3 linked regions of the Homo sapiens genome follow. Changing the gene in region 1 together with any one later gene gives a genetic interaction. Each region holds a gene or a part of one and is shown in the gene's direction. Other genes may lie near its edges.

Evidence for each region.
Region 2: changes in PTPRZ1 (region 1) and GPI together harm fitness more than expected from each alone (negative genetic interaction), as found in Homo sapiens cells (one large-scale study listed by BioGRID).
Region 3: changes in PTPRZ1 (region 1) and SLC16A5 together harm fitness more than expected from each alone (negative genetic interaction), as found in Homo sapiens cells (one large-scale study listed by BioGRID).

What each region holds. Positions count from the first base shown.
Region 1 is NC_000007.14:121,879,661-121,883,310, forward strand, and holds part of PTPRZ1 (receptor-type tyrosine-protein phosphatase zeta isoform 1 precursor), read left to right. Parts: intron 1-3,650. UniProt on the Homo sapiens protein: Protein tyrosine phosphatase that negatively regulates oligodendrocyte precursor proliferation in the embryonic spinal cord. Required for normal differentiation of the precursor cells into mature, fully myelinating oligodendrocytes.
Region 2 is NC_000019.10:34,389,138-34,392,787, forward strand, and holds part of GPI (glucose-6-phosphate isomerase), read left to right. Parts: intron 1-3,650. UniProt on the Homo sapiens protein: In the cytoplasm, catalyzes the conversion of glucose-6-phosphate to fructose-6-phosphate, the second step in glycolysis, and the reverse reaction during gluconeogenesis.
Region 3 is NC_000017.11:75,094,345-75,097,994, forward strand, and holds part of SLC16A5 (monocarboxylate transporter 6), read left to right. Parts: intron 1-3,650. UniProt on the Homo sapiens protein: Proton-linked monocarboxylate transporter.

The sequences.
Region 1 (3,650 bases):
ATGGGACATGGGATCAGTTAAAAATCTTCATAGGAGTCAAAAGCAGAAAAAAAGGAGATGATCTTTTGTTAGGATATTTGCTTTATTTTCTTCTCAACTACCTTCCTCCCTTCCTTTTTTCTTTCCCTCCTTCCTTCTATTTTTCCTTCCTTCCCCTTTCCTCCCTTCTTCCCTCCCTTCCTCCTTTTATCCTTCATTCCTTTAATCCTTCCTTCTTTTCTTTTTCTTTTTTTGTTGCTATTTCCTCTTCAGCTTCACTTTCTTTTAGCATGAGTTTAAGATAATTAAATAAACTTAAGTTTGCTCAGCACCTTGATGAAAAGTTTGATAGGGAAGAGATTAATGCTATTTGAAACCATTAGTTAAAAATATTTTTACTGTGTTAATATCATTTGGGGGTCTTTGTAGTTAACAAAATTTTTAAAGTATGAGTTGGCAGATGTTTTTGCCTAAATATTCCAGTGTGGTAAAATGGGCTGATTGTCTTTGTTTTCCCCTTCTGATATTTGCCCACAGATATTAAAGTAAACTCAGTTATTTTGGGTACTGGTTAATGTGAAGTTTTTGGCCTTATTCAATAAGTACAAGTCAATTTATGTGCATGCTAACAGGGGATAGTTTTTTTTACAAGTTTCCTTGGAAATGTAGTACTTGGGTACTTGGAAATAATTTATTCATTAGTAAGAAAGAAGGATTTTCTGTTAGAATATCCATAACTATGATGAGAATACAGATATTTTCCTGCTCTTGGAGAAACATTCTACCCTCTCTCTCTGCCTTCCCCTTTAGCACTTACTGGATAAATTTTCTACTTTTTCACTGTTACTGACTGAACTGCCTATTTCTTGAATCCTAAAGCTCTAATGTATTTACCTAAGGATGGGTCTCACTATGAGCTCTTTTCTCTGAACTGATTAACTCAGTACCTTGAGTAGGAATAAAATAAAACATTGATTTTTAAAATGACTCCTTTAAGCAGAGATCATGGTAATAAACAGAGTCTTGATTACATGCTTAGAACATGCTGGCCAGATATAAGGAAGTTTTTAGATTTTCTAATGGTTTTTATTCATATTGTCATCAGATTGAAAATTATTTCTATTATTAAATTTTTACCCACTTGCATTCTGACACATTTTCTTGAATAGGATATGTCAAGGTGGTATTGTCTCAGCTGCTACACAGAGTTGTGCAAAATCATGATCTGCCCAAAGGAGCATAAGGATACCCTTGAGGAGCATGTGGGATATTATTGTCATGTGTGTTTTAGTGCACAAAAACGCTGACAACCATTTATCTAGGTTGATAATTCTCAATCCTGGCTGCATTTTGAACTTACTTGGTGTTATGGACTGAATGTTTGTGTCCTCTCCAAAATTCATGTTGAAGCCCTAACCTGCCATTGTGATCGTATTTGGGGACAGGGCCTTTGCAGGGTAATTAGGTCATGAGGGTGAAGCTGTCATTGATGGGTTTAGTGTCTGTATAAGAAGAGAAAAAGACCAGAATCCTCTCTCTATTCACCATGTAAAGACACAGCAAGAAGGCAGCCATCTGCAATCCAGAAAGAGAGCCCTCGCCAGGAATCAAATCTGCTGGCCTTTTGATCTTAAACTTCCCAGCCTCCATATCTGTGAGAAATAAATGTCTGTTATGTTAGCCACCCAGTAAATGGTATTTTGTTATAGTAGCCCAAGCTGACTATGCACCTGGGAGACTTTTAAATCATACTGATGCCTGGGCATCAAATCAAGTACTTCATAATGTATGGGTGCTGAGCCCAGACATGGACATTTTCTTAAAACTCTCCAGGTGATTATAGAGCACAGCCTGGGACTGAAACCACAGATCTAGGCCAACTTCATGACACTACTAATCTTAGTTCATTTTTCTTAAGGTGGAGATATTTGCAGGTCTTATGCTGTCCTAAAACAAAGCTAGTGCCACAAGACAAAGGTCCTGGAAATTTTCCCTTCTCTCTCTCTTCTTAAGGCAGTTTCAGCTTCAGAGTAACCCTAGAAGGAGGAGTATGCTCTATGGTGATTGACCTCATAGTCTTTTAAAGCCAGGGAAACTTTAGGAGGCCAGGCAGTCTTGGAGTGGGTCCAAAGATTCAAGTCTATCAGCTGGTAGGAGGGTAAATGAACCAGCTTCCGAGATGGGGACTCCAAGTGACATTTATCCAGACACAAGCACATAATATCGTTCATTTCATCAATGATACATATTCTTGTTCTCTGTTATTTATTTTCTTTCTCCATGCATAATTTGTTAGAACTTGGCTTTTTGTTTACTGTTATGAAATAAATATTAAGATTTAGCTATTGCTTTTTCATTTTAGCAATTTGTGTGTTTTATGAAATTATTAATCAGGTATAGGCTATTTCTTTTTACTGTATTTGAAAAGCACCAATAACTCCATTTAAAAATTAACAATGAACTTTTCTAGGTGTTTCAAATAACTCCTTTAATATACTTATTAGTGATGATGCAAGTACAAATTAATTTAATGAATCATTTTTGAGCATCTTCCTTGGGATAAATATTCCTCCAGAGAGACTATTCTTCTCATGGCCAGCTGAACTTTTACAAGATAGAAAGATGCATACGTAAGTAGGTCTCATACATGATGGAGTTTCTGGCATATGAGACTGTGAGCTGTGTGGAGATATATTTAGTCTTAAATTCACCTCTTAGAAGGTTTCTAGTAGGAGATGGGATTGGATATAGACCATTCAGGATAAATGGATAGAGCTTCAGGGGTCACCATGGGAGCAGAAGGCATCAGAGGGATTAAGGTTGGCATGCAGAGAAACATGGACTGAAAGTGAGAACGTGGTAATTGGAGGGAGGGGACAGTGGGGAGAGGAGTATAACAGTAAAAGGTCTCAAATGGTAGGTAGGATTTACAATGGCCAATTGAAGAGTTTTGTGTTTGAAATCTACTCATTGTACAATGGGAAATTACTAAAGGGTTTTGAGCAGTGAAATGACTGGAATAGATCTCTTTATTTCAGGAAGATAACTCAGGTATCAGAGCATAGGATGGATTGAAGCCGAGGGAGACAGGGAATCAGGAAGCTTGGTTAAAAGCCTCTTACACGGTGGCAGTCACAGTGGAAATTTATAGATCATTTGGGATATAATAATATCATCCTCTTTATAGAATTCTTTAATGTTTAACAAGCACTTTCAGATACATTATCTCACTTGATATGAATGTAATTGGTATAATTGGTAGGACATTGTGCCATTCTCTGGAGTGAGTCACTGGTGATCCTTAAGGGAGTGTCTTCTCTGGGAAGGTGAAGATGTAGCATGGAACACAGGGAATCAGAGAAATATCCAGGAAGGAAAAGAGAAGGTAGCAAATACATACAAGTCCACAGAAGTTGATAACTTGGAGGGAAGAAAGAAGAGAGAGAAACAGAGGATGATCGCTTGAAACCTGATTATTTATTGAATGGTGAAACTCTTAAATTTGTTAAGACAAGGCAGTAATTGACTCTAGACATTTTCTCTGAACAGATTAACTCAGTGCCTTGAGTAGAAATAAGAGGAAATAGTGCTGCTAAAAATGATTATTTTTTTTAGAGATTAGAGTCACAACTTAACTAAAACAAGCAAACTTTTTTAAAGGAGGATTTTAG
Region 2 (3,650 bases), on another chromosome or scaffold:
TGAGAGCCTATGTCAAGCATGATGTAGTCTGTAGGACTGCGTCTGTCAGGTAAGGTTCCCGGAAACCCAGAGCCTTTCCAAGTGAGTGGCCCCACCGGTCATCTCATTGCCCAAGCCAGAAACCTCTCGGCCACACTGGAGAGCTCCCAGAATGAGTCCTCTGCACTCCCCAGTCCATCTCCGGGGCTTCAAAGTGGCTTGTTTGCTTCTGTCCTTGTCTTAGCCGCAGACTGTTCTCAGTCCTCCCACCGTGCCTCTCAGCTTCCACCCTGCGGTCCCCACCCCTTCCTTTATCCTCTGGAAGGTGCTATGCTTCCCCCTGCCTCAGTGGGCTTCCAGGAGAGAATTAAGCCCTCACAGCCCAAGGCATCTACTGGATGTAATAAGTGGGCACCTCTCCTTCGTGTCTAGAAGGTTACTAGTCTTGGACCATCCTTGGGAGAACTGAGAAGTCACTCAGATCATTTTCTGTGGGCCTTAATTCTGTCACGCTTGAGAAAGACTGCTTTGGCCACGGGACCTTTGCATGTGCTGTTATGGCTGCTGGAATGCTCCCTCAGTGCTTCTCTGGGTCATGCCTGCTCGTTCTTGAGATCAAGGGTCAAGTACCCCTCAGGTTCCTTTTATAAGTGGCCTCAGCACCATGTTCCAATTTCTCCTCAGCACTTGTTTCTCAGTTTCACATTTATTGGCATGATTATTTGATGTACGTCTCTCTCCCACACTCTGTGTCCGTTGCCTGTGCTAGAAATGTGGGAGGTGCTCCATAAACAGCTGTTAGGAAGACATCCGTGAAGTTCTGAGGACTCTGATGGCACCAAGTGGAGCTTGCAGGTGTGGCTTGAGAAGGTGCAGTGTGAATGATAGGCCTAGGTGATAGGCCGAGAAGATCGGTCAAGCCCAGATATGACCCACTGGGCCTGTCAGTGTCCAGGAGGTGGGGTGAGGCACAGGTCTAAGGTTCTGGATCTGTCAGTACCACCTGAGGAGTTGGGAATGGGCACAGGTACAAAGTGATGAGTCTTCATTGTTCAACAAAGAATGGCACAGGTGTGAGGATCTGGGTTTGTCAGTATCTGAGGATGTGGGGCCTGGCACAAGTATGAGGCACTGGGCCACTGTTCAAGCAGGTGGGCTGGGGAACAGAAATGTAGCTGTGGGTTTTTAATATCTGAGGAGACCTAGCCAAGTGTAGCAGAGAGCTGCTGGGTCTTTCATTGTCCAAGGAAGCATACCTGGGCACAAGTATGAGACTGAGAAGGTGGGTCCTGGCACCGGTAAGGGGCTCTGGGTCTGCAAGTGTCTATGGAAGTAGGGCCTGGTACAGGTATGTGGTGCTGGAAGAGGTATCCAAGGAGGTGGGCTAAGTACAGGTATGACATCTGGGTCTTCCAGTGTGTGAGGAGGTAGGATCTGGTACAAGTATGAGGCCCTGGGTCTGCTGGTGTCTGAGGAGATAACAGCAGGTTACAGGTATGAGGCCCTGGGTCTGCTGGTGTCTGAGGAGGTAACATCTAGTACAGGTATGAAATCTGGGTCTTCCTGTGTCTGAGAAGGTAGCACCTGGCACAGGTATGAGGATCTGGGTCTTCCCAATGTTTGAGGAGGTAGCATCTGGCACAGGTATGAGGATATGGGTCTTCCATGTCTGAGGAGGTAGCACCTGGCACAGGTATGAGAATCTGGGTCTTCCAGTGTCTGAGGAGGTAGCACCTGGCACAGGTATGAGTATCTGGGTCTTCCCGTGTCTGAGGAGGTAGCACCTGGCACAGGTATGAGGATCTGGGTCTTCCTGTGTCTGAGGAGGTAGCACCTGGCACAGGTATGAGGATCTGGGTCTTCCCGTGTCTGAGTAGGTAGCACCTGGCACAGGTATGAGGATATGGGTCTTCCATGTCTGAGGAGGTAGCACCTGGCACAGATATGAGGATCTGCGTCTTCCAGTGTTTGAGGAGGTGAGTTTGGACTCAGGTTTGAGGCCCTTGGGCTTCCAGTGCCTGAGGAGATAGCATCTGGCACAGGTATGAAGCCCTGAGTCTTCTAGTGTCTGGGGAAGTGAGGCTGGGTACAAGTATGAGGATCTGTGTCCATCAGTATCTGAGGAGGTGGGATCGGGTCCTGGTATGAGGATCTGGGTCTGTCCATGTCTAAGGAGGTAAGATCTGGCCCTGGTATGAGGATCTAGGACTGTCCATGTCTGAGGAGTTACCATCTGGTACAGGAATGAGGATCTGGGTCTGTCAATATCAGAGGAGGTAGGAATCTGGTACAGGTATGAGGATCTGCGTCTGTCAAAGTCTGAGGAGTTACCATCTGGTACAGGAATGAGGAGATGTGTCTTCCAGTGACTTAGGAGGTACGATCTCTTATAGGTATGAGGATCTGGGTCTGTCAATGTCTGAGGAGGTAGGATCTGGCCCTGGTATGAGAATCCGGGTCTGTCCATGTCTGAGCAGGTAGGATGTGTCCCTGGTATGAGGATCCGGGTCTGTCAATTTCTGAAGAGGTGGGAATTTGGTACATGTATGAGGATCTGGGTCTGTCAGTATCTGAGGAGGTAGGATCTGGTACAGTTGTGAGGATCTGGGTCTTCGGGTGTCTGAGGAGGTGGCATTTGGCACAGGTATGAGAATCTGGATCTTCTAGTGTCTGAGGAGGTGGGATCTGGTATTAATTATGAGAATCTGGTTCTGTCAGTGACTGAGGAGGTAGGATCTGGCATAAGCATGAGGATCTGGGTCTGTCAATGTCTGAGGAGGCAGTATCTGGTACAGGTATGAGGATCTGGGTCTGTCATGTCTGGAGGTAAGATCTGGCATGAGTATGAGGATTTGGTTCTGTTCATGTCTGAGGAGGTAGGATCTGGTGCAGGTATAAGGATCTGGGTCTTTCAATGTCTGAGAAGGTAGGATCTGGTACAGGTGTGAGGATCTGGGTCTGTTAATGTCTGAGGAGGTAGGATCTGGCACTGGTAAGAGGATCTGCATCTGTCAGTTTCTGAGGAGGTAGGATCTGGCCCTAGTAAGAAGATCTCAGTCTGTCAATTTCTGAGGAGGTTGGATCTGGCCCCCTTATGAGGATCTGAGTCTGTCAATATCTGAAGAGGTAGGAATCTGGTACAGGTATGAGGATCTGTGTGTGTGTCAGTGTCTGAGGAATTAGGAATCTGGTACAGGTGTGAGGATCTTCATGTCTCTGTATCTGAGGAAGTAGGATCTGATACAGGTATTAGGATCTGGGTCTATGTCTGAGGAGGTAGCATCTGATACAGGTATGAAGACCTGAGTCTGTCAGTGTCTGAAGTGGTTGGATCTGGCCCTGGTATGAGGATCTGGGTTTGTCAGTATTTGAGGAGGTAGGATCTGTCCCTGGTAGGAGGGTCTGTGTCTTCTAGTGTCTGAAGAAGTAGGATCTGGCCCTGGTATGAGGATCTGGGTCTGTCAGTATCTGAGGAGGTAGGATCTCATACAGGTATGAGGATCTGGGTTTTTCAATGTCTGAGGAGGTAGGATCTGGCACAGGCATGAGCATCTGGGTCTGACCATGTCTAAAGAGTTGAAGCTGTGTGCAGGTATGAGGCCTTGGGTCTGCCAGTGTCTGGGGAGGTGAGGCTGGGCATGGGTGTGAGACCCTGGGTCTGTCCATATCTG
Region 3 (3,650 bases), on another chromosome or scaffold:
TCACTAGGGCAGGGAGTGGCTTCAGGATAGGAAAGGGGACGCAAGGAAGACACCAGGAATGGCCGGGCGCGATGGCTTACGCCTGTAATCCCAGCACTTTGGGAGGCCGAGGCGGTCAGATCACCTGAGGTCGGGAGTTTGAGACCAGCCTGACCAACATGGAGAAACCCTGTCTCTACTGAAAATACAAAATTAGCTGGGCGTGGTGGCGGGTGCCTGTAATCCCAGCTACTCAGGAGGCTGAGGCAGGAGAATCTCTTGAACCCAGGAGGCAGAGGTTGCGGTGAGCTGAGATGGTGCCATTGCACTCCAGCCTGGGCAACAAGAGTGAAACTGTCTCAAAAAAAAAAAAAGACACCAGGAACAAGAGGGGGACAAGGCAGGAGCCCCAGCTCTCCCGGGACTCCCTGCAGAGAGGAGGTTGCTAAGTGGGGGTGAGGGAGGAAGGCAGCCCCTGTCTGCCCCTTCTCCTGGCTCTGTCACCATAGGCCTCAGAGGCCCATGTTCCTGGCTGGCTTTTCCAGGAGTGTGACTGCCTCACCCTGACCCCAGCGTTGGGAGCAGGGCAGAGGGAGGGTTCTCTGCAGTCGCCGTGGACACAGGGACCTGCCCTCAGCTCCTGGGAGCTCTCCAGGGAGACTGCAGAGACCCCGGCCTCGGAGGGGCCCGGTGGACAGCAGCCCGAGCTGATGGCCCACAGGCCTCTGCAGGCGTGTGTCTGCTGGCCGCAGCTGCCCATCTCCCCGGCTACCTCCTGGCTACTCCCTCCACTTGCCACCAGCAGCCTGCCTATTATTCCAGGTCCTGCCCTCAAACTGGGAGGGAGGTGAGGCTCGGAGAAAGCGCCACCCTCCTGGGTGAGCTCTGAATCTGCCACATGGCCTCTGGCCTGCAGGGTTGGGGCAGGGAGTGGGAATCCCAGAGGGCTGCTTCTCACACAGGCAGAGCAGGGTTCCTGGGCCAGGGGCTAGGAACCGGGCACCCGGCGGGGAACCTACTCCCCAGCTGACTTGCGGCTCACCACCCCCAGCAGGCATCTCAGCATCTCCATCAGCATGGGATTCCTGGCTGGCCATCTCTCTCATGTACACATACACGTGTATGAGCCCGTGCTCATTCAGAGTACTGTAGACATTTTATTTTATGTTTATTTATTTATTTGCTTATTTTTGAGACAGAGTCTCACTCTGTCACCTGGGCTGGAGTGCAGTGGCATGATCACAGCCTATTGCAGCCTTAACCTCTCAAGCTCAAGCGATCCTGCCACCTCAGCCTCCCGAGTAGCTGGGACCACAGGTGTGCACCACCACACCCAGCTAATTTTTTTTTTTTTTAGATGGAGTCTCGCTCTGTTGCCCAGGCTGGAGTGCAGTGGTGCAATCTCAGCTCGCTGTAACCTCCGCCTTCCAGGTTCAAGCGATTCTCCTGCCTCAGCCTCCTGAGTAGCTGGGACTACAGGTGCGCACCACCATGCCTGGCTAATTTTTTGTATTTTTAGTAGAGACGGGGTTTCACCGTGTTAGCCAGGATGGTCTCGATCTCCTGACCTCATGATCTGCTGGCCTTGGCCTCCCAAAGTGCTGGGATTACAGGTGTGAGCCACCACGCCCAGACCATACCCAGCTAATTTTTTTACTTTTTGTAGAGACGGGGTCTCACTATGTTGCTCAGGCTGGTCTCAAACTCCTGGGCTCAAGTGATCTACCTGCCTGGGCCTCTCAAAATGCTGGGATTACAGACATGAGCCACGGCACCTGACCACAGTATTGTAGAAATTTTTAAACACGATGAATCATGGATACTTTCACTGATCCTTTCAAGTGCCCCTGCCCCTACCTACGCCTTTTAGAGGTAAGGAAAGCAAGCAGGCACAGAACACAAGACCTGCCCAAGGCTGAAGAGTGAGTTCACGGCAGAGGAAACACCCTGTGTCCCGCCCGGCCACACCACCCTCAGCTATGCAGCTCTGGCCTGCAGCCCAGTCCCCACCCCCACCCCTGTGACTAAGGGCTTTCCCCAATGTCAACTTCCCTAAGTCAGGCCAGAGTCTCTGGCGTGAGGAAGCTCTGTGGGTCAGTCCTCTCCAGAGCCACCTCCCCCTCTACAGGGGCAGAGACGCCGGGCCACCAGCCTCTGCTTGATTATGTCTGCGACGGGCTGCTCACTTAGTCTGTCACTTGCTTTTTTCTTTTTTTTTTTTTTCGGAGATGGAGCCTCCCTCTCTCACCCAGGCTGGAGTGTAGTGGCACAGTCTCGGCTCACTGCAACCTCCACCTCCCGGGTTCAAGCGATTCTCCTGCCTCAGCCTCCCTAGTAGCTTGGAATTACAGGCATGCGCCACCACACCTGGCTAATTTTTGTATTTTTAGTAGAGATGGGGTTTTACCATGTTAGCCAGGCTGGTCTCGAACTCCTGACTTCAGGCGATCCACCTGCCTCGGCCTCCCAAAGTGCTGGGATTACAGGCGTGAGCCACCACGCATGGCCACTCCATCACTTTTTTTTTTTTTTTTTTTTTTTGAGATGTAGTTTCACTCTGTCGCCCAGGATGGAGCGCATCGGGTTCTGCCTCCCAGGTTCAAGCGATTCTCCTGCCTCAGCCTCCCAAGTAGCTGGGATTACAGGCACGCACCACCATGCCTGGCTAATTTTTGTATTTTTAGTAGAGATGGGGTTTCACCATGTTGGTCAGGCTGGTCTCGAACTCCTGACCTTAAGTGATCCACCCACCTCGGCCTCCCAAAGTACTGGGATTACAGGCGTGAGCCACCACACCCAGCCTACTCTGTCACTTTTATACTCACACTGGCTCACACCACACATCCCCCCTCCACCGCAGACACACACAAGCATCTCATGCGCACACACTTCCCTGTCCCTTTAGTTGCACTCTCGGAGAGTAAGTTAGAGAAGCTCCACATGTGCTTGGGTGAATGGGGCCCCTGTGAGGTGCCAAGGAGCAGTCTGCAGCTCTTTTCTATTTTTTTGGGGTGTGGATTGGTGAGAAAGCAGCTGGGAGCCAGGCAAGGAACAGGCCCCCCTCCACATTGAGCCAAACCTCTAGGTGCAGACTTTGGTGGTGCTGGAGGTGGTGTGGGAGGGGAGAACCTACCCTGCCTGATTGTCTGCAGAGGCCAGTGCAAGGAGGCGCAGAGGGGCCCAGGGTTCCCCTCAGCTGTAGGGCTGGGAAGGTGGTGGGAGGGTGGGAGGGATCTAGCCAGTCTTCCTGAGGATGTTGGGTGTGGGGATGGGGCAGGTAAAACAGGATCTGAAGGTGCACACTGTAGTCTAGATGTCCTGGAACACTGCCCCGACTCCTCCCACCAACAGACCCCCAGCGAAGTGGGGGAGGTAAACTCATGAACCAATCCTGTTTCACCCGGATAGAATGAGCAGCCTCAGGTCTGTGTAGTTCAGGGTCTTGCTCCACCTTTCAGGGAATCCTCATCAGGGTCAAACATCGCCCATTCTGAATCCTCACTTTGTAGGGGAAAAAATTGAGGCACGGAGAGGGATCAGGCTTTGCTCAGGCCACATGGCCAGTCCATGGCAGGTGGGTATCAGAATCCAGGCCTGCTCGTGCCCTTGAAACCACCTGGCTAGTTCCAGCTGGAACTGCCCTCTCCAGCCACTCTCCTCCTCTCCCGCCA